Regions from separate parts of the Homo sapiens genome. Here all the other regions are reported to be linked to region 2. The links are microRNA targets in miRTarBase. Many come from high-throughput screens and were not tested one by one. Region 2 holds a microRNA gene; each other region holds the end of a gene's coding sequence.

The links. The annotated mature microRNA hsa-miR-297 reads AUGUAUGUGUGCAUGUGCAUG and lies in region 2 at 2,516-2,536, shown strand. An mRNA with a match to its seed (bases 2 to 7 or 8) in the 3' UTR can be bound and repressed. Matches are read on the target gene's strand: a 7mer-m8 pairs with bases 2 to 8, a 7mer-A1 pairs with bases 2 to 7 and ends in A, and an 8mer does both.
Region 1: miRTarBase lists KCNQ3 as a target of hsa-miR-297. Seed matches in the 3' UTR shown: 7mer-m8 at 5,385-5,391.
Region 3: miRTarBase lists GPC5 as a target of hsa-miR-297. Seed matches in the 3' UTR shown: 8mer at 5,782-5,789.

Annotation. Positions count from the first base shown.
Region 1 is chr8:132,123,120-132,130,326 of GRCh38, forward strand. KCNQ3 (potassium voltage-gated channel subfamily Q member 3) reads right to left here. Exons shown (of 15, transcript NM_004519.4): 15 at 1-6,877. The coding sequence ends at 6,143. Among named protein-coding and RNA genes, the nearest start is that of HHLA1, 16 kb to the left of the region's middle. RefSeq lists enhancers at 5,714-6,214, 6,215-6,715.
Region 2 is chr4:110,855,953-110,863,159 of GRCh38, reverse strand. MIR297 (microRNA 297) reads left to right here and starts at 2,513; the gene lies at 2,513-2,578.
Region 3 is chr13:92,865,464-92,872,670 of GRCh38, reverse strand. It overlaps GPC5 (glypican 5), which reads right to left. Exons shown (of 8, transcript NM_004466.6): 8 at 5,434-6,389. The coding sequence ends at 6,232. Among named protein-coding and RNA genes, the nearest start is that of GPC5-AS1, 150 kb to the right of the region's middle.

The DNA.
Region 1 (7,207 bases), not on the chromosome of region 2:
AAAATCAAAACCATAGGGATTTATCAAGAAGAAACCCTGTTTAATTGGCCTATAGATGAGGATGCAACCTAAGGCATGACTGTTGCTGAATGAGCCCAAGTGATGGGCCAAAAAGGTGAACCAGTCCAAACATGGCAGGACCAAGAAGGAACAAGGTAGGAGAGGGCAGAGGGGTGGAGGGCAGAGAGGTGGAGGGGAGGAGTGCCTGCATGGCCATGGGATTGTTCTTCATTCCCTTTCTCAACTGCACCCAGCAGCAGTGGTTTTTGCTAGGCCTTTTGAAGACAGCAGGAATCTGGGAGAAGGAACATCATCGTCTTTCACAGCATGGAAACATCAATCTTATTCCAGAGAAGGGAAGAAGTCCCCAAAGGTATGTCCGGTTTAACAGTTTCTCAAGTGGGCCAGGAAGTTCTTTTTCATGTTCTGGGCTCAATCGTGATGCTTTGATTTCACTTGGTATTTTACTTTTAGTTTTGTCTCTAACATCTGGAGCAAAGATCAGAAGACCTGAGTTCCAGATTTATTCTGTGACTCAATCACTGCTTCAATCACTGAGGGACGTGGTGTGATGTTCTTTGCTCTGAGCTTCTGCTTCTTGATCTAAAAAGACAGGTGGTTGTTCTGGGTGATCAAAATCTCTTCTTGCTCTGTGTATCTTAGAATCCATGAAATTATGTCTCTTTGCATCTATGATAACAAATCAAAATATGAATCACAATTTTCTTACAGGGTTGCTGAGGTTAAAGCCGTGAAAGCCTGGGAACAAATCTCCCCAGGGAAGGTTTAAGCAAGCATTAACTCTTTCTTCTGCAAGTTCCCCCATTCATTGCTAGGGTGTTGTCTGATAGCCACCATGCACAGTTGACTTTCCTTGGGAAATCATGAGTCTTTTATTTTTGCAATTTGGCTTTATCTCCTACACATCATCCAGATGGTGCAACATCTGGTACTATATGTCCAATGGAATTGCCACAACTCAGCCACTGAGATCCAACATTCCTGCCTCTCTTCATTCCAAGATTCCTTCTGTTCTTTATTGTGGTAGACAAGAGCAAGCATTTTTATTTGCAGAGATGTACTTATTTAAAAAGCAATTGTGAAAGCATTTGATTTAATAATTAGGATTGTTTCTCCACGATTCTTTTTCTGAAAAAAAATTTTTTTGGTGTAAATTTAGAGTTTATAAGTAACACCAAAGACTGAGACAATGAAGTCCATGCATACTGTAAAAAAATAACATAAATAACAGTCCCTAGTATGCATCAGTCATTGTACTAGAGGCTTTGTGTGTACATTGATTGTCTCACTTGAAAATCAAAACACGGCAGAAGAGTCAAATGCTTTTGAATGTGCTGAAACTCAAATTTTCTTCCAGGTCATCTCTGTATGATTCCTCTTTTACACTGCCATTACTGGCTTCTAAAACCACTAAAGCTATGCAGATAGCCTGGTCCTAACATGTTCTAAACTGGGCATTAGTGAGGGGCTGCCTGCTGGCTTGTTTAGGGGCCAGTTGGCTCAGTTTGGAATGGTTTAATATCAGCAACAATAGCATTGGGTTGATTTGAATATAAACAACTTAGACTTTAAAAGTTCATCCTGAAAAACAAGCCTTCAAGGACAAGTGAGGACATGAAGCAAATTCCTAAGGATGCCTGGGGTTCAGGAAGCAAAGAAGAATCTTTGGTTATTCATGAAAACCAAATACCAGCTATGTGGCATCTTCTGGGAAAGCACAGGGGTGGGAGAATCCTGGGGTGTGTTTGGCAGCACTGTCCAAAGTACAGTTGACTTCTTAGGCTGCTGAACAAATTTCTTCTCTTGCCCCAGGAGAATTTGATCTGCAGGTTCCCATAAGTAGAGTAACATCTTTCTCTTGAAATAGGTGCTGTGTCATAGTCTGTATCATAAGCTTCTCTTGGTCAACATAATGAAATGAAAGTAACTCAGCTCCTTGACTGGTATCAATCTTAGCAGGGATTAGGAGACAAGAAGAAAGCTGGTTTCTCCAACAATCTTCCTCAGATTCCCTAGAATCCCCCCTTTTTGCACAGCTTCTCTGGAGCTATGAAGTTCAAAGCATTGAATCCAAACTCGAAGTCCCCATTCAACCCACTCAGCCTTGACTGGGCTGATTGGATCATTGCCATTTTGATGTAGAACCTTTGCTCTCATTTTCATGTTCAATTTTCTATAGTTTCCAAGCTAGGAAGCATTTCTGTCTGTATAGAGTTGTTTGCAGGGATGAAATCAGGTATTTTATTTTCCTGGTAGACATAGTTTGAAGGGACCTCTGATGTTTGAGACCTCTAGATTCCTAGCATTTTGATGGCAGAAACTGTGGTTTTCTTATCTCTGAACTTCCAGTGCACTGCAAAGTTCTGGGCATATATTGGTGCTTAATAAACCCTGTTAAATGAATAAACAAATGATTTTTTCTTTATTACACCCCCATTTCAGTAGCATGGAATTATGAGGATGATTTTGCCAAATTATGAGTAGGTCCTATTAGATTAGGTTTTTCTACAGGAAATTATTCTTTCAAACTACAGTGTCTAGGAAGTACCTTGCACAAAATAGACACAGGATGCATAATTGTTGATTAATTAGTTCATTTTAACCTATACACCTTGGGGTTATCTAGTTATGTTTTCATGAAAACTAGGGCTTTGTAATATCAATGTCATGTCTAATAAGCCTAAATTTCCAGTTCTAAAAACAAAGTTATTCAACAACACTTTCTCAATTTGATGTGTTTTTCTTTTCCTGAAATAATTTTTTTCTTAAGCTTTTGATATTTGCTTTTGTGCTGACATTTGATAGTCAAAACTCAAACGATCTCAAGTACTTCTTTCTCAGCTCAATAGGATCATGTTTCGCTTAACATTTGTGAAGTTGATTTATCTAATTCATTTTGATCTTGCTAAAATATGACCTTTAAAATTTTTCATGTCACATTGTGACCCAGAAAGACCAAATACATACATGAGATCATAGTTTTACCTGATAATATCACTCCTAGTTTGATGATGGAATTAATTTGTCAATATTTCATGGAGTTCTGCTGAAACGATTGCAATTTCTTGGGCAAGTTTCAGAACGACTAGTATATCTGTGGTCATGTCATCTTGGGTCATGTTAACCAGTTCCATTGGATTATCATGCTGTTCCCTTGTCTGACAAAAGGATCTTTGTGAAAGCACACACTGTTTCTTCCCATAACTCACATTCAATTCCAGACCCTGAATTTCTGCTTGCTCACTGTGAGCCATATTGTTGAGATTGTCTGTGCATAGGCAACTTGAGCAGGTTTGGTTTGCCTTTCTGGAATATATTTTTTGGGGAACAAAAGGAGAATATCAAAGCAGAGTTATTCCAGAAGATCATTTTTCTCTTTTCCTTTTTGTTTTCTTAAATGGGAAAAAAACAGCTCTTAAGGTTCTTATTATTTATTCATTCATAAAACATGTATTTTGTCTATGTCTATACTGATAAAGACAACTTACTAGATGTTAGACAATCAATACTTCCCTACTACTGATCAATACAAACCCAATCTCTGCTGTCCTGGTCTTATGATCCAGCAGGGAAGCTAGACTGCCTGCCTATGGTTTAGGAAATAATACAAGCTCCAATCCTTTCTAGGTTATTAAAAGAATCTAAGGTAGTTCCTCCAATTTTGGATCAATGGTAAATACTTTAAGGTAGAACTCCATTGAGTTGCTGGAAAATGCATCATCTATTGGTAAAATACTTAAGATAGTAAGTTCTTCAAGAATACTAATAAGTAAGTTAAAAAATTAATTGGCGCATATGTGGAGAGTATGACTCACTCTCCTTTATTGTTGGTTTCCAGTAACTCATGTACATAAAGAAGAGCATAGTAACATGTTGGATGTTAGGCAGGTGATCATCTCAAGTGAAAGATTCCAGGAAGATCAGGATTCAATAATCAAGCCCTCAGGAAGGGGCATAGGGTTTCTTAGGTTGTAATCCCCACTGGCACTTTCAGCCATATTGAAGGAGTGGGGAAAAGGCCCAAATAACCCATGCCCTTTGTCCTTCAGATTGCCAGCATGTCAAATGGAAGCCCGTGGGGCTTCATGTCTGATGCATTGAGCATTCTGGTATATTTCCCATCTCAGACTTCAAGGTCTACACCCATCCATTTATGGGGCTCTCCATAAAAAACACCCTTCTGCTGCTCACAATGTCTGCCCTTGGCCTGGGACTTTGGGCTTTGGTTCTAAGTTCCTAAAGTCAGGGGTCAAGCTCTAATCATTACTGTATTCTGAGCTTTTTGTACAGTAACTGTTGACATGTGAGTTGAAAGGAACCTATCTCTGAGGAAGTGATTCCTCTCTCCAACATAGTGCCAGACTCTCGTATTAGGAAATGATGAAACCATCAACCAAATGTCTGCCATAGCTACTGTGGCTCTTGACAAGACTGTGAGGGAGAATAGCAGTGTCAGCTGCATACAGACATTTGTTTAGGTCATCTGGATTATCTTGATTGTCACCATGGCAACTATCCACAACCAGTGCCTAGGTGTGTGAGAAGAGTGATACAATAATACTGTGGCATGGTCATTTAGCTAATTCAGTCTAAGCCTAACAGAAACCTTTTCCATCAAAGTTTTTCAGAGAATAACAACATCTCATAAGAGGCCAGAGGATGGCTTGTGCTTAATATCACACCTGTACAGTAGGGCAGTGCTTCCCAGGCTGTCTGCTTACATTTTAGCTTGTCTTACGGTTACATATGGTTTTAGTATTTTCATTTAAAAAATCTGGGTTGGTTCCATAAATTTGGAAAAGTAAAATTGGACGGTTCTGGAAATTTTGCCTGTTTACACATCTGTAAATGTAGCTTGCTTGCATTATTTTTTTCTAGATCTGAAATGCATTGCATCAAGCAAGCATGTTTTGCAATAAAAGTGGAAATCCCCCTCCTGCTGGATAAACTGGGTGCTTTCCACGCGACACAAAGTCATATATCTTGACACAATCTCTAGGATGCATTATATAAATGGAAGAATGGTGTGGTGAGGGGAAACAAGGTCAGGGAGAGTGGGCAGACCTGACTTTTGAGTCCTGGTTCTCTATGGGACAACTGAGTGACTCTGGGTATGTCACTTTACCTGAGCCTAAGATTCTTCATTTATAAAAGGAAGTCCTTGGACTAGAAAATTTCTGTGTGCCTTCTTGACTTTAATTTCTATTTTAGATGGATATTTTGTACTTCAGTATCATGGGAAGAAATGAGAGTTGGAAATTCATTTTAAAGGCACTGAACTCAGCTCCTGCCCAGAGGGGCACTTCACTTCTGATAAATTCCATTGTCCTTGGCTACATAAATTGGAAACTATTTTAACTTTGTGTATGTGTGTGTGTGTGTGTGTGTGTGTGTGTGTGTGTGTGTTTTCTCCCTGCCAATTCATAACTCATCAGAAATGCTACACTTGGGATTACCACCACTTTTTACAGATAAGGAAACTGAGGCATGATACTAAGTAACATCAGGCCAAGTGAGGTCTTTTGGAGAGCTTTTAAAAGGTTTTGCCTTAAATATTTGTTTAAATTCTTTGTTTTAGAGACACAATGACTATCTCATTCCTTTCCTAATGTTAGCTCAGTAGGCAGCCCCACTGATACACAATGTGGTTTTGTTGAGAAAATTATTTCCTTGCTTTCAAAAACAGTTAATTGCTGGAGCGTTTTACACAAGAGGGCAGTGATCCTAGAAATAACTTAAACTACTTTCTCTGCTTACCAAACCAAAACCCAAACCAGCCAACCAAACAGACAAATAGCATGGCTCATCAGTAATTTCTCCCTGTACTGGTCCAATCGTGATTAAAAGTAAGAACAGCAGATAAATGTGTATCCTAGAAGAGATTAGCGGAACCATTTATATAGTGTAAAGTCATGCAAACCATGCTGAAAAGGAAGCACTTTGTTGTGGTGACATGGGGAGGAAGAGGCTGTGGGAAGCCCCTGCCTGGGTGGGGCCACCACGCACACGCATGCATTTGATGCAGCCATTGGTGTCCCCGCTGGTAAGCGTCGGGTGTAAGAGTAAGTGAACTATACAAAGTCTGTCTACATTACAAGGAGGGGTCAGCCAGTGACCTCTTTTAAATGGGCTTATTGGAAGGGGTCCATACTGAATCAGAAATCCCATCCCCTGTGGACGACAGAGGCATGGAGCCGCTGGGCGTGAAGGGGTCCGTGTCTGTGTCCGTCTCACCCTCGGCGAGGTACCGCTTCTCCCTCATCCAGCTCGACCCCCCATTGGGGCCGAACACATAATCATCTCTGTCCTGGGAGATGCTGAAGCCACTTGGAGACCTCTCCAGCTCCTCGTGGTTGACCGACATCAGGGACAGAGGTGTGTCACTGTCTCGCGTGATGCTACGTCTCTGCCGGGGGGAGATTCGGTCCGAGTAGGGGCCCTGCAGGTCAGCCTGGGAGTGGCAGCTCACTCGGGAGTCGAGAAGAGTCAAGATAGGCAGGACCGTGGGCCTCTCCACATACGTTGTTGCTGAGGAAGGAGGAGTTGCCTGAACCTTTCCAGAACTGGGTCCCCCTCGGGGCAGGTTCACAGGGTCATGTGCAAAAAACCCATAGGGGCTGACTTTGTCAATGGTCACCTGGTGGAAGCTGTAGGGTGGTTCCGGGGGGCCTGTCTCAGAATAGTTGCAGATGATGGTTTTCAAATCGGAATACCTGTTGTCCTCCTTCTTCTCTGCTTCAGCTGGCGAGGAGGTGCCCTTGGTTGGGTAATACTCCGTGACCTGCACCTGCAACCGTTCCATGTGTTGCATGTGCATATCCACGAGGAAGTCCAGCTTCTTCCCCATGTCCTGAACCTGGAAAATCAAAGGAGCTGTGAATTACCACTTTCTCTGAGGGTGGGGATCGTTGCTATTGGTTGGGAGGAAATATTCTTTTTTTTTGTTTTTTTTTTTTTTTTGAGACGAAGTCTCAGTCTGTCACCCAGGCTGGAGTGCAGTGGCGCGATCTGGGCTCATTGCAACTTCCGCCTCCCGGGTTCAAGCAGTTCTATGCCTCAGCCTCCCAAGTAGCTGGGATTACAGGCACCCGCCACCATGCCAGGCTAATGTTTGTATTATTAGTAGAGACGGGGTTTCACAATCTTGGCCAGGCTGGTCTTGAACTGACCTCGTGATCCACCTGCC
Region 2 (7,207 bases):
TTAATATATCATTTATCACAGTTTCATCTGTTACTTATCAAAGGATTTCTATGCAACAAAGTCAGTTTTACACATTTAATAGCTATGACTTCTGCTAGTCTCAGGGAATACCGTCTCTTCCAAATTTACTCAACATGGTGTTTTTCCTTTATTTAGGGATGAACCTAAATAAAGAAGGGACCAGTTGTCAGCTTCTACACTTCCAGCACTGAAGCAAGGAGCAAAGGTAGGATTTATTAGCTAACATGTATTAAGGGCTTCCATATGAGCCAAGCAGTATGCTGAGTTCTGTACATTCATTATCTTCTTTAACCCTCACAACAGCCTTCTGAGGTGAGTGCTATTATTATCACCATTTTACAGATGAGGAAACTGAGGTAGGAAATGTCAAATTACTTGATCAAGGTTTGAATGGGAGTCAGTGGGAAGGCTGACCTGAAACTCAAAGCTTTCTGACTTTGTCAGTCTGCTTTTCCTCCCAGTTAGGACAGAAGCAGTTGTATTTGCCCCATCCTTCTTGAGAGAACCCTTTACCCCGCCTGCACCACTCTCATTCTCTTAAAAATATGAAATATTAAATATAAGGATTGCCACATCCCATGCAACCCCAGTCAGGTGCCTCACAACTCTACAACCTGAGGCCATATGAAGGCAACCCAGGTATTTCTGGGCACAGAGAGAAGTGAACCAAAGGACTGCCCATTTGGTTTACTGTCCATAAAATTACTGAGTAAAATGTTAAACATTTTCTTCTCTTCAAAATAATGATCAACTCGATCTTTCAGAAAAAATTTTCAAAGCTTTGAAAAGGTTTTTTTTGAACTCTTCACTTATTTTTATTTATAATGGCATATAATAACTGTACATATTTATTGGGTATAATGTTTCAATACATGTATCTATAGTATAATGGTCAAATTGGAGTAATTATAGCTATCACTTTAACTACTTAGCATTTCTTTGTGGTGGCAACATTCAAAATCTTCTCTTCTAGCTGTCTTGAAATATACAATACATTGGCATTTGCTGTAGTCACTCTACTGTGAAACAGAACACCAAAACTGAAAAGTTATATTTTAAAATAATCCTTTTCTACACTTCAAGTCTACATTCTTTAAAAATAATAACAGATCTGAATTCTACTCATTCAACCATTAATTAAGAATAACTATAACTTTATAACTTTTTAAAATAAGATTTGTACAGAAGTTTTGTTTCCTTGTTTGTTTGCTTGGAAAGGTTTTTGGTTGATACTTACGTAAGTGACAGGCTCTGCTTACATGCATGACCAACATTATCTTAGTCTAATCCCACAACAACCTCATCTGGTAGGTATATTTTCCAGATAAGGAAACTAAGGAACAGAGATGTTACATAACTTGCCCAGTCACACAGCTAGTAAGCTGAGAAACCAAGATTCAGGCCAGGCAGTTTGTTTCCAGTTTTCCCTTTTTTTTTTTTTTTTTGAAACAGAGTCTTGCTCTGTCGCCCAGCCTGGAGTGCAATGGTGCGATAGGGGCTCACTGCAACCTCTGCCTCCCGGGTTTAAGTGATTCTCCTGCCTCAGCCTCCAGAGTAGCTGGGATTACAGGCACCCACCACCATGCCCAGCTAATTTTTGTATTTTTAGTGGAGACGGGGGTTCACCATGTTGATCAGGCTGCTCTTGAACTCCTGACCTCAAGCAGTCCACCCACCTCAGACTCCCAAAGTGCTGGGATTACAGGCATGAGCCACTGCGCCCAGCCCAGTTTTCCATTCTTAATCAGTAGGCTCTTGTTTGAGAATATTTTATTCTTAATGATGGTATTACTCATTTTTGTACTTTATACAATGGAGTACTTCGTGTTTGGAATGGCTTCCTTGTCCATATCTTTGTAAGGTTGAGGCCAATTTTTCTGAAGGTCTAAAGATCAGGCCCAAAAGAGAGACCACATAATCACTTTGCGTTCCTTCCTCAGTAATCTCCACAACTCATTTTGTGTCAGAAATTCACCACTGCACAATAACAGGCCAACAGTGGCCAGAGTTGGCTCCCATGCTGTAAGGTTGGAGGAAGGACACACCAGGCTTCCTAAGTACTTCACACAAGGCTGCCAAAGGATTAGCTGGATGTTCCTGTGCCAGGTTCACTTAACAGGAACATGGCAAGTTGTGGAGACTAATTGGTTCTCACAGGTATTTGGGGTAATGTAAAAATACAACTGCAGGAAAGGCAATTTCCCCCTAGAATGTGACTTGCTCCTGTAAATACAATATATTTTACAGGTTTTAATGCATGTGAAATATTTATCATTGGCATGAAAATTTAAAATATATACCATTTTCCCTTTCATGCCAAAGGGCTTCTATACCCATCACAATTAAAATTAAATATGGAGTAATAGCATAGCTTTTTACTCTGATTCCCTTTTCCCCATTTTGTAAATTCACAGCTTTAACCCATGGCCACCTGCCTGAACGATGGCTTATTTCCAACTCAAGATCTCTTTCTACATACTTTATGAACATATGTATGTATGTGTGCATGTGCATGTATGTGTATATACATATATATGTATTATGTACTCATATATCAAGGAGATTTCATTTCTATTTTTAATCTATGGTATAACTTCTGCATTGATCATATAGTCATGAACCACACGAAAAAGTTCCAGTCAACGACAGACCACAAATGTGACAGTTGTCCCATAAGAAGAAAATGGAGCTGAAAAATTCCTATCACCTAATGGCGTCGTAGCCATCATAATGTAATAGCAAATGCATTACTCATGCGTTTTTGGTGATGTTGGTGTAAATAAACCTACAGTGCTGCCAGTCATATAATATTACAGCACATACAATTATCCACAATACATAACACTTGATAATGACGAATATGTTACTGGCTTATATATTTACTATAGTAAACTTTTATTGCTATTTTAGGGTATACTGCCTCAACTTATAAAAAAAAAGTTAACTATAAAACAGCCTCAGGCAGGTCCTTCAGGAGGTATCCAGAAGAAGGCATTGTTATAGCAGATTACAGCTCCATTTGTGTTACTATTTCCAGTTTTCCACTCTTAATAGAGCTTCTACTGGGACAAGAGGTGGAGATGGAAGGCAGTGATACTGATGATCCTGACCCTGTGTAGGCCTAGGCTATGTGTATGTTTCTGTCTTAGTTTTTAACAAGAAAGTTGAAAAAGTAAAATATATATATATATATATGATCTTTGAAATAGAAAAAAGCTTATAGAATAAGAATATAAAGAAAGAAAACATTTTTGTACAGCGATACAATGTGTTTATATTTTAAACTAAATGTTATTACAGAAAGAGTCAAAAAGTAAAAAAATACAAGTTTATAAAGTAAAAAAGCCATGGTAAGCTAAAGTTAATTTATTATTTAAGAAAGAAGATTTTTTTTTAATTTAGTGTAGCCTAGTTCACTGTGTTTATAAAATCCACAGTAGTGGACAGTAATGTCCTAGGCCTTCACCTTCACTCACCACTCACTCACTGATTCACCCAGAGCAACTTCCAGTCCTACAAGCTCCATGCATGGTAAGTGCCCTATACAGGTTTACCATTTTTTGTCTTTTATACCATATTTTACCTTTTATATGTTTAGAAATGTTTAGATACACAAATGCTTGCCATTGTGTAACAGTTGCCTAAAGCATTTAGTACAGTAACGTGCTGACTGAATACTTATTCAGAATTCTGCTATTTCTGTTGGAGTGCTGCATCATAGTCCTCAGAGGCACACAGATCTCACTACCTAGGGTCTACAGGCATCAAGTCATAGGTCTGAGAGAGAGATTGAAGGATTAAAAAGAAGAGGGGCAAAGAGAAATTAGAGTCTAAAAGGGGAAAAGGGATCACATTTGCCAGCCCCACTCTATCTCCAAATGTCTTTTCTGATCAATCTCATAATCAATTGATAATAAAAGTAGCCAAAAGATTATACTAACTATATATCTAACCCTTAAATAAAAATCACTCTCTGCCAGGAACTATTCTAAGCTCTTTATAATAATAACACATTCCATCCTTATAACAACTTTATGACAAATTATAAATTGCCCCATTTTATATACCTTAAACTTTCCTTCTCACATCTCATTATTCTAAGCTAATCTAAAGAAATGTCTTATTTTCTTTAATTTCAAAGCAGATATTTCAGCAATACTCTTTTCCTCGCCACACCTTTTTGGGCCACTAAGAAGAAAACTAACTTGTGCCCCCTTTGAGTCCTTTCATTGAAGGAAACTTTGGGAGGCAAATAGAGCCATAACATCTGCCTATGGGCTTTCGACTGAAGTACTGGGTACTAAATCTCATCTCCCACATGGGAAGTCAGTTCCTGACTTGGGGTCAGGAAAGAATGAGAGGGAATCCCCTCAGCGGCTCCATAAATTATCTACCTATATGCACACACAGCATTCAAGGAGTCAAGAGTGCCACACATTCAGAATATGAAAATAACAGCAACAACAACATTTGATCTGAATTTATTTTTTAAACAAGAAAGAAAAGTATTTGATCTGAATATTAAAAAGGAATTAAAGGCCGGGTGCTGTGGCTCACACCTGTAATCCCAACACTTTGGGAGGCTGAGGTGGGTGAATCGCTTGAGCCCAGGAGTTGGAGATCGGGCTGGACAACAAAGTGAGACCCACTTTCTACAAAAAAATACAAAAATTAGCCAGGCATGGTGGCACACGTGTATGGTCCCAGCTACTTGGGAGGCTGAAGTGGGAGGATCAGTTGAGCCTGGGAGGTCAAGGCTGCAGTGACCCAAGATTGCGCCAGCCTCGACAGCAGAGCAAGACCCTGTCCCCCCACAAAAAATTAATAGTATTAAATAGTTGTAAATTATGATAGTGCCAAACTGAGCATTAGTCTATTGGCTTTAATGTTTGACAAAGCAATTTAATACTGACCAATATCAGAGCCATATGAATAATAATAAATTATATACATCATAAATTATATGTATTTCATAATTAGTTTTTCTCATAGTGTAGTAAAAAGCAAGTACTGAAACTCATTACAGTATTTAGCCTGCTAATACCTTGTTGCCAGAAGTAATAATTGTAACTGTCAATATGGCCGTTAAATTTACCTTCACATGACCATTAACACTTTGTCTCAGTTTTCAAGCTTTCTTTGTTAACTACTAGTTAGACTTTGAGACCTTTCAACACAATTAATTGTTATGATTTGCAAGTGATGATAGAACAGGTCACTGATTCCCTGTTACCCAAAGCAGCCTTACTGCAGAATAAAGGTGCATTTTGCAAACTACCTGTTTTCACAGTGCATAAGGGAGAGGCTAGTAAAACTCTACTATATTGTATTATATTAATATAATTAATGCTAGATACAAGGTTTTCTTTTCCTTTGATACATGATTAAGAAGTTTTTATTTAGGTCGGGTACGTTACTCTGAATTAAATTCTCCCCCCTACACCCACCTTTTTCTAAGATTTCATTTCAAGGGCTTGCATTTTGAATGGCACTAAATTCAAAAAGCACTTGAGTGCAGGTGGCACTGAATTAAATATTATGTTAATAGAAACCTATTAGCATAATTCCTAACCTACAATAATTTCCTAGGGTGAACAATAGTCATGGAAACCCATAAACCAAAATGTATATGATCAAATAAAATATTAAGAGAATAATTGATAACCATGTGCTAGGCTTTCCTCAAAGCATATTACATATAATAATTTATTTAATGCTCACAACAACATGATGGGTTTCATACTATTATTTTCCTCATGCTGCAGATGAAGAAATTAATGCAAATAGATAGTAAGTAGCAGGCAGAAGATTCAAATCCCAGGGTCCATGCTTTTAACTCCTACACTCTACTACTGCCTCTTGCCCATAAAGGGATGCAATGCCACCGATATATGTCTAGGAGTATGAGGCTGCTGAAAAATACTAGACAAGCCAAGAATGAGTTCCATATTCAGATTGTATGTTTAAATCTAGGAAAACTCTTCAAAAGACAGGGTCTAGGATATTATTATATAATATAAATGCTTAGGTATTCCAATAATAAAAACTTTTTATGAAAAGGGAACTCTTCTAAAGGAAAGCCAAGACAAGGTAAGGAGAACAAAAAGGTTAAATTGTTACATGTTAGCATCAGATGGAAATGAGGCACAAAGGTGTAGGTCTTTGAAGTACAGGGTAAGGATCTTGGGTTTGCTCCAAAAATAATAAGAAATTATATGATAAGTAGGTCATGGCATAGTAACATGGAGCAGCAGAATAGTTAACACCAGCAGTCAGATTAAATAGGGTGCTAGCAAATAGAACAGAATCCTGACAAATTAATGATACTAATTGTTTACTAGATTTCCCATCTTCCTTTTACTGAGATGACTGACACAAGAACTGGGGCCATACATTGGGTTAGAAGAAGAGTTAGAAAAGACAGAACTTATCTGTCAAGATGTTAAACGTGCAAACACTAATTTACACAATTTCTTCTTTGTGAGTACCAACAAGTTTTGAATTTTGAAAAATACAAATGGCCAATGACTACTAATGATCTATAATAGTGATTTTTCAAATTATAACTTGCACTGGAATCAGCTGGACAGCTTGTTAAAAGATTGCTAGCCCCCACTCCCAAAGTTTCTGGTTTAGTTAATCTGGGGTGGGGCCTAGGAATTTACATCACTAAGAGCTCCCAGGTGATGCTTATGAGTCTGGTCCAGGGACCAGGCTTGGAGAACCACTGATCAGATAAAAAGGAGTTGAACATTTTAAAAACATCCTAAATGGTCCACTTAAGAAACTACATTGGCACACTATGTTTATAAATCAGAATATAAAACAAGTGAAATGATATTGCCAAGAAAAATAACCTGAATCCAACTCAACTTTCAATTTTTCAAAGTGCATAGGACACAAGAACATGTTTAAAAACACAACAAGGATATAATCAGCAAAGTTCAGACTGTAGGTAACCCTGTAGGAAAAATATGTCGTTTCTTGAACAAAGAAACTACAGGGGGAAAAAAGAGAAAGAGAAAGAAGGGAAAGTCTATTGATTAAAAGAGTCTTATGGACATATTAACCAGTTGTGATGCCTGGAGAGTTTTTGATGCCAATGCAAAAAACAAACTGCTAAAAAAAATTATGATTTTTATGAGACAATTGGAAATGTAAACAATGCCTATATTTAATGCTACTA
Region 3 (7,207 bases), not on the chromosome of region 2:
CAATAATGTTTTCTGTTTTGGCCTAGAAATCTAGAATTCTAAAAATACATAAGAAAATTTAGGGATTATCTGGCTCAACCACATTATTTTACAAATAAAGAACTGAAGTTCAAAGAGTTACAGGACTTGCCGAAGGTCATACAGAAAATTACTGCTAAAGCCTTTGAAGCTCCATTTGCTGTTTTCTCCAGCATTTTTGGATGCTTGTGAGTCAATGAACGAGCCAACTACCCCATCATATGGCCACACTAGGGCACCTGGCATATGGAATCTCCTCAGGATCCTCAACCTTACTACTAGAGCTAAATTTGAGATGAAAGACAAATGAAAAATAAAATATCTTAGAGAGAAGACATTTTAGAAAGTGAATAAAACAAGGGAACATTTAAAAATAGCCTATACAGCCTTCAAGTAGCCTAACCTAACCTAATTGACCTATCAAAAGTTTTCTGAACCCTGGGATACTGAGTGGTGCAGTGGAAAAAAGGATTTTGAAGGCTGATTTTAGAATGCTTGCTTTGTCTATCACTGGCAATGTGACCTTAATGAAGTGATTTTGCCTCTCAGAAATAACCACTTGGGGGTAACTTAGGTGAGATACTGAGCAACACACTTCTTGTTTACTCATATTTGTTCTTCCCACCGCGCTTGGGTTGTACTGGTAACCCACAGTATAATAATCCCACAGAGATGGAGGTCTAAATACACCAGTCAAGGAGACCTTCAAGCAAGGTTTGGAGGTCTCTAAATTTGTCATTGTAGACACCAATTCACATTTGAATACTGGGTCAGAGCTAATATCCTTTTATATTCAATGAAAGAAAGACCACTTACTCCCAATACTTAAAAAAATAAACTTTCAGTGAATAAGCCTCATAGCCAGGATGAGTCCAGGCAAAACATGAAACATGAAGCAGGCAGTATGGGTTTCTTGTGCATTCCAGAGTCCATTGCTTCTCTTCTCTTTCCCTTTCCTGAACCCTACTCATTCACTCTCCAACCATCTTCTCTACGCTCTGGATATGGTTTGGCTCCAGGTCCTCACCGAAATATCGTGTTGAATTTTAATTCCCAGTGTTAGGAAGGGACCTGGTGGGAGGTTATTTGTTCATGGGGCTGGAGTTTCCCCTTGCTGTTCTCTTGACAGTGAGTTTTCACAAGATCAGGTTGTTTGAAAGTGGGTTGCACTTCCCCATTCACTCTCTCTCTCCTGCTGCCATGTGAAGATTGTGCCTGCTTCCCTTTTGCCTTCTACCATGATTGTAAGTTTCCTGAGGCCTTCCCAGCTATGCCTACTGTACAACCTACAGAACTGTGAGTCAATTAAACCTCTTTTCTTCATAAATTATCCAGTCTCAGGTAGTTCTTTATAGTAGTATGAAAACAGACTAACACAGATCTCTTCCCCTATCAAAAACTTATTGACAGGCAGAATCCATAACTAAATATTCTAGTGTTGTCCCATCCTGGAAACATGTGCACTTTAACAGAAAGCTCTGTGGGAAGGGAACAAACACGAATCATTATGGCTCATCATGGGCCAGCAGGGTCCTAATAGGTGTTGGATTATCTAGTTCTCTAAGTAACACTGTGAGGTAGATACAGTTATCTCAATTTTTACAGATAAGAAAAGAGAAAGGAAATAGAGACAGTAGCCAGAAAATGTATGTGGGGAATGAGTATGTATATGGATGGAGCGGCAGGGTGGGGGGGTCAAGGAGAGAAGTGAGAATGTGCCCTGGGTGAGCAAATCACATTGACTTTGCAAATTGGGTCCTGGAACTCTTTGATCACAATTATGGAGTCACTCTTTCTGGAACATACTATACCGTTCACAGCATTTGTCTTACAGCTGGGCCTTCTTGTTCTTGTTCTTCGTTTTTCTTTCTTCTTGTTATGCTAGTGGTCTTGGCTGAGTAATCTCAGGAAAATCAGAGACCTCCCTTTTTTTCTAAGAGTCTTCATTCCTTCCAATCCAACATGTTTAAAGGTGGGTATCAAACTCATAAAAGTAAGAATTTACTTATTACTGCAGTCAGTCCCATTCCTTCTGTCTCCAACCAGTTTTGATCCTTAAATGTTCACCGTTCTGTTCTTAATTCTATGGTCTTTCAAATTCTGATATATTGTCTTTCACTCTGGTCTTCAATGTAGTCAAAGTAAAATTTTAAGGGGAAAATAAGATGCGTGATCTTCTCACACACATTTTCATGAAGTTGATTCCAGTGTGAGAATTGGCAAGTGCAGGAAGGCAAAAGTCTCTTAAATCAGATGTTTCCAAAAAGTAACCATGGACATCCACTCCTACTCTACTCTCTTCCAAATAAGTTATTGTTTTCTGCTATGGAAATATAAATTATATTGTGATGAAATTACTCAGTTTTCTCTGTGCAAGGAGGCAGAAAGGATAGCTTAAGAATTATATTTGATTAGATCTCTAGTCATAAAGTAATTATAACAGTAATTCAGTCACTCTGTAATTTTACTAAAGGCAAGGAAAGCAGACTTTTGACTTGAGAAATATGTTTTATCTGTATTTTAATCAAAAATGACTTGTATACAACAATCTGCATTTAAAGAAAAACTTGATATGTTCACATTCATACCTAACAACATTAGAAATTATTATTTCTGAATTTTCATAACCCATGTAATTGTATATGAATGACATTAAAGGTTGCAAACTAAATACAATAGTGATGTAGCCTGCTCAACAAAGTTCTCATTCAGAATAAGAGACGTCTAGGTTGAATATATTCATTCAAGAAAAAAATCATTTTTATTGTCCTTGAAGGATTCTGATGTTAGAAACAATATTTTATATGATAGCAAACAGTTAGTAATAAATGAATTTAGTCCTTTTCAAAGCATCATTATTGAGCACTTCAGAAAATCTGAGTGTTGGGAGGAAAGAGCTTATTAACCTCAGTCCTTTTTTAGTGAGAAGATAACCATGCAGACATTATTTTATTGTACCATGTACTGTAACCATGCAGACATTATTTATTCACAGAATAAATAGAGGATAAAGGCAAATCTAAGATTTAAAAAATAATTTTCTGCCATGCCCTTTCCCTTCCTTCCCTTCTTCCTTCCCTCCCTCCTTCCCTCCCTCCTCCCTCCTTTCCTTCCTTCCTTCCTCCTCTCCTTCCTTTCATTTTTTTATGCCATCCTATAGCCAAAGAAATGTTTTATACCTTTTTGTTGCAAAGGAAACTAAAATAAACTTCATGATCCCATTAGAGTTAAAACAGTTGTGTTTTCTTTCTCATTCTCGGCAGCTGATTTATTTTCAGGGCTGATGTGTTTAGAGTGGGTTTGAATATATGGGAGGGTAATGAATGGTACTAAAAAAAGTCCATGTTTACACTTCTCCTTTTTATTATGTTTCTACACTAATGTGCATTTTGGTAATTAGACAATTATTCTATAGCCAACTGTATTTGTTAAATCCTAGTTTGGAGACTTAAGTAGTCTCTGAATGATTTTTGTGCTAACCTGTAGTTCCTCGCTGTTGTTCCAAAACTGTATCTTTGAACCAGAAAGGTATACAGTTTATTTAAAGGTATCATACTCACCATCTAACTCTGTTATGATTAGTTGTATGACATCTGTCAAATTCCCTAATATTTATAAGCTCAGTTTTCTCATTGGTAAAATGGAAATGTCAGTGTTTTTGGGGAGATTAAATGACATTGTGCATCAAGGCATTTATCATGGTGCGTATACAAAGAAAGGCCAAGTAAATGTTAGTTCTGCTTCTAAACCTAGTCTCCCCAATATATGCAAAATATCAGACGAAGTTTTATGATTACTTAAACTCATAAAAATAACTCCGGGATTCAAGAATATGGCTCTTTTAAAAATTACACCAGCATAAAATGTGACTATGTGTGTGATATTTTTAAATACATACATTCAGTCTGATGTAATCTATTAAATAATCTTGGAAAGTAGACACATATCCAACACTTGTATCATTGCTCAAAACTTTCTTAGACCTTATTAATGAAAAACTCTCCAGAAGCAAATTCTGAGCCATATAAAAAATCAGCATTATTGTTTTTATTTGACTGAAAATCAAGCCTATCTTTGAGGGGGCGAAGAAAGTCCAAATGAGATACTCTCTCTCATTTGAAAGAGCTTTGCAATTCATAAGAAACTATGTAGATATGAAATGTCACAGAATGGGAAGTGTTAATGGATAAGTATATCCTTACTGAGAATATTAACAATTTTGCCTTAGGCTTTTAAAGAAATTCTGAAAACCCCAGTGTTTTAAGCTCTAGTAACACCATTATTGCTTATATAGTCCCCAAAGTGCCCACCTGCAGATAACACCCATCTGAGCATGTAAAACTTAGTTTAAAAAAAAATAATCATTTCTTGTATTGACTTTACCACTCTGCTTTTGTCCATTTCTTGCCATATCTGAAATTATCTTCTGTCAATTAATTTTATCCATATATCTTAGACTGCTAAAGCATGCTCTTCAGTTTGTTTGTCTTTAGAATTAAATTCCTCTTAAGTTGGGTCTGAAATTTTGCCGTAGCAAGCCAATCATGACTTGGGCTGGAGGGCAGCAAATGAGTGCCTTAGTATCACTTTTTTCCAAGACTGATTTAAATGAAGAGCTGAGGTTGAAGTAAAAAATTTTCAAAATAGGGTTAAGTTTGTAATTTGTGGAGTGTGTCAAGGTGAGTGCAAATGAGTTATTAACTGAATGGATCAGGGAATGTTAGGTGTGGAATGGAAGCCTAGGAAAATGGCATCCACAACTGATGGGTAGAATAACACTTACGGTTCTGAGGCATGTTTGAATGGAGGGTAAAACCTGATTGGGCAGCTTAAAAATGTTGTGATTTAAACTAACCATCCTTAGATCATTTTGTTAATTGAGAACTTAAGCGAGAACAAGGTTTGATCATATATTGTTTCCTGACTAGCAGAAACGGATTTTACCTTATTAATGTTTGCATTTGGCTGTGTCTTGTTTACGTCTTTGTCAGAAGTCATTTCAAATTTTTTTTTGTTTTTTTTTATTTGAGGTCAGCAATTCCCTTTTCTATTCTGTGACTTTGTATTAATTATATTTTCTCTCTGTAGACTGGATGTGATACTTATTAATAAAAACTAACTTCTCTTTTCCTCAAGTATAGCCATATACATATCCTATTAGTGTCTATTGAGGCAACTTATCCCAACTGAGAAATTAGGGACTGTTGGTTTGCAGCTCCATTAATGAGCAAATAGGAAAGAGCTAAAGTGTTGCATATCATCTTTTCTGTACATGTCTGCAGATATTCATAGGAACCTTAGAAATGCAAAGGTAGCCAATTGTACAACATCAGGCTTTAAAAAGTAGTACATAATATTTTGAAAATGGGTGAAAATAGCATTTTTGCCAGAAGAAAATGACAAATATTCTTCAAATTTTTCCACCAAATAGTTAACAGCTTTATTGGAGATATTCCTAGAGCAAGCATGTGCTTCCCAACATAGCTAAATCTATGAGGCAAAGAGAGAGATGGGAGCAGAGGCACAATACCAAAGATGCATTTTGAATATAATGGAATACAAATCAGGTGTTAATAAAATACTCAGCTTTAAGGTTCATCAGTGGCTAAGTTACAGTGGGTCAAAATTATCAAGGTTCTTCAGTGAAATTATATGAAATGCTTCTCAAGAATCTACCCCATAACTTATAGACATTCAGACATTTCCTTCTACAGCTTGCAAAAATGGAAGAGTCTCTTGAATATGCATGCATACTACTTGCCATTGTATGTTTTGATTTATTTCATGATATTCTAATTTCAATACTTTAAGAAATACTGCATACTGTTTTCATTGTCTGGCAAATACACTTTCAAATGAAAACATTTTTAATTTAGAAAGGAAGGGGCTTGGAATTGATAATAAAATTACAGATACACTAAATTCTTCTTATTCAAAGTCACTTCTGTGCCCTTCACATCTTCAGATTTAATATATTAGAAGTTAAGAAGGTTTTCAGTTAGATTGAAAAAAGACATATTTTTAAAGTGTGTCATTTAAACGTTGAGTTTTAGGGACTTTATGAATATTTCAGCTTGGCTTCTGAGAAGTTAGTGTAACATATCTTTTCATAAATATAATTGTTACATTGAAAAAGGATCTCTTATTCCAGGCATATGCAGAGAGAGAAGAAATCGAGACTTCAGTAAGGTATGTCAGGACAGAAGAGTTCAGTTACCAAATCCCGGGAAGTAACATCACCACACTTATCAGAGTGAATGTCATAGATTCAGTCGCCACTGCACATCCTGCTCCTGTTGTGTCTAAAGTACTGCCAGTGTCTGTTTGATGGATTTGCTTTACATCACTGAAGTTCATATCATCTGGCATCCCTGTAGAGGCAAATAAGAAAGCACAGGTGATGCATGACCACTTCACCATAATACGTCTAGAACAACTCTTAAACTCAAAGTGTGGACAGCATTGTTTTTGGGGACCATTCTCTATGTTCACCTAACTCTAACATAATTAATATGACACAGGTATTTCTGTCCTACTTAGATTGGAGAGTTCAAGCTCTTGTGTGAAAATTCTCAAATATTATAAGAGCAAAGTGAAAAGATTTTTAGCTTTTTAAAATTTTTGGAACATTTCTCTGCCACTGGTAAGTAAGTGAAGACATTTAATTAATTAATATATCCTAGGTATGGGATTAGTTCTTGTTTCAGAGATTTATCACCTTCAGTAACTGAAAACTTTTCCCATGAAAATAAAACCAGTTGAGGGGATATAATTGAATAAAATATTTTTTAAAAGTAGAATTTCTACAGATCATATTTTACATTAGAATAAAGTAGGCCTAAGATCTTTTTCAAATTTATTTTCATTTTTACTTGACAAATTTTATAGATATTGATGGGGTACAATGTGATATTTTGACAAGTATACCAGGAGGAATGATAAAGTCAAGCTGGCTAGCATATCCATCACCTCACATCCTTAGCATTTTTCTTGTGGAGGGAACATTTGAAATGTACCTTCTTGGCAATTTGGAAATATACAGTACATTATGAATGATAGTTACCATGCTGCGCAATGGTCTAAAACATTTCTTCCTCCTGTCTAACTAAACTTTGTACCCTCCAACCACCATCTCCCCTCCCTTCCCCACATCCATCCCCTGGCAGCCACCCTTTTACTTTCCCCTTTT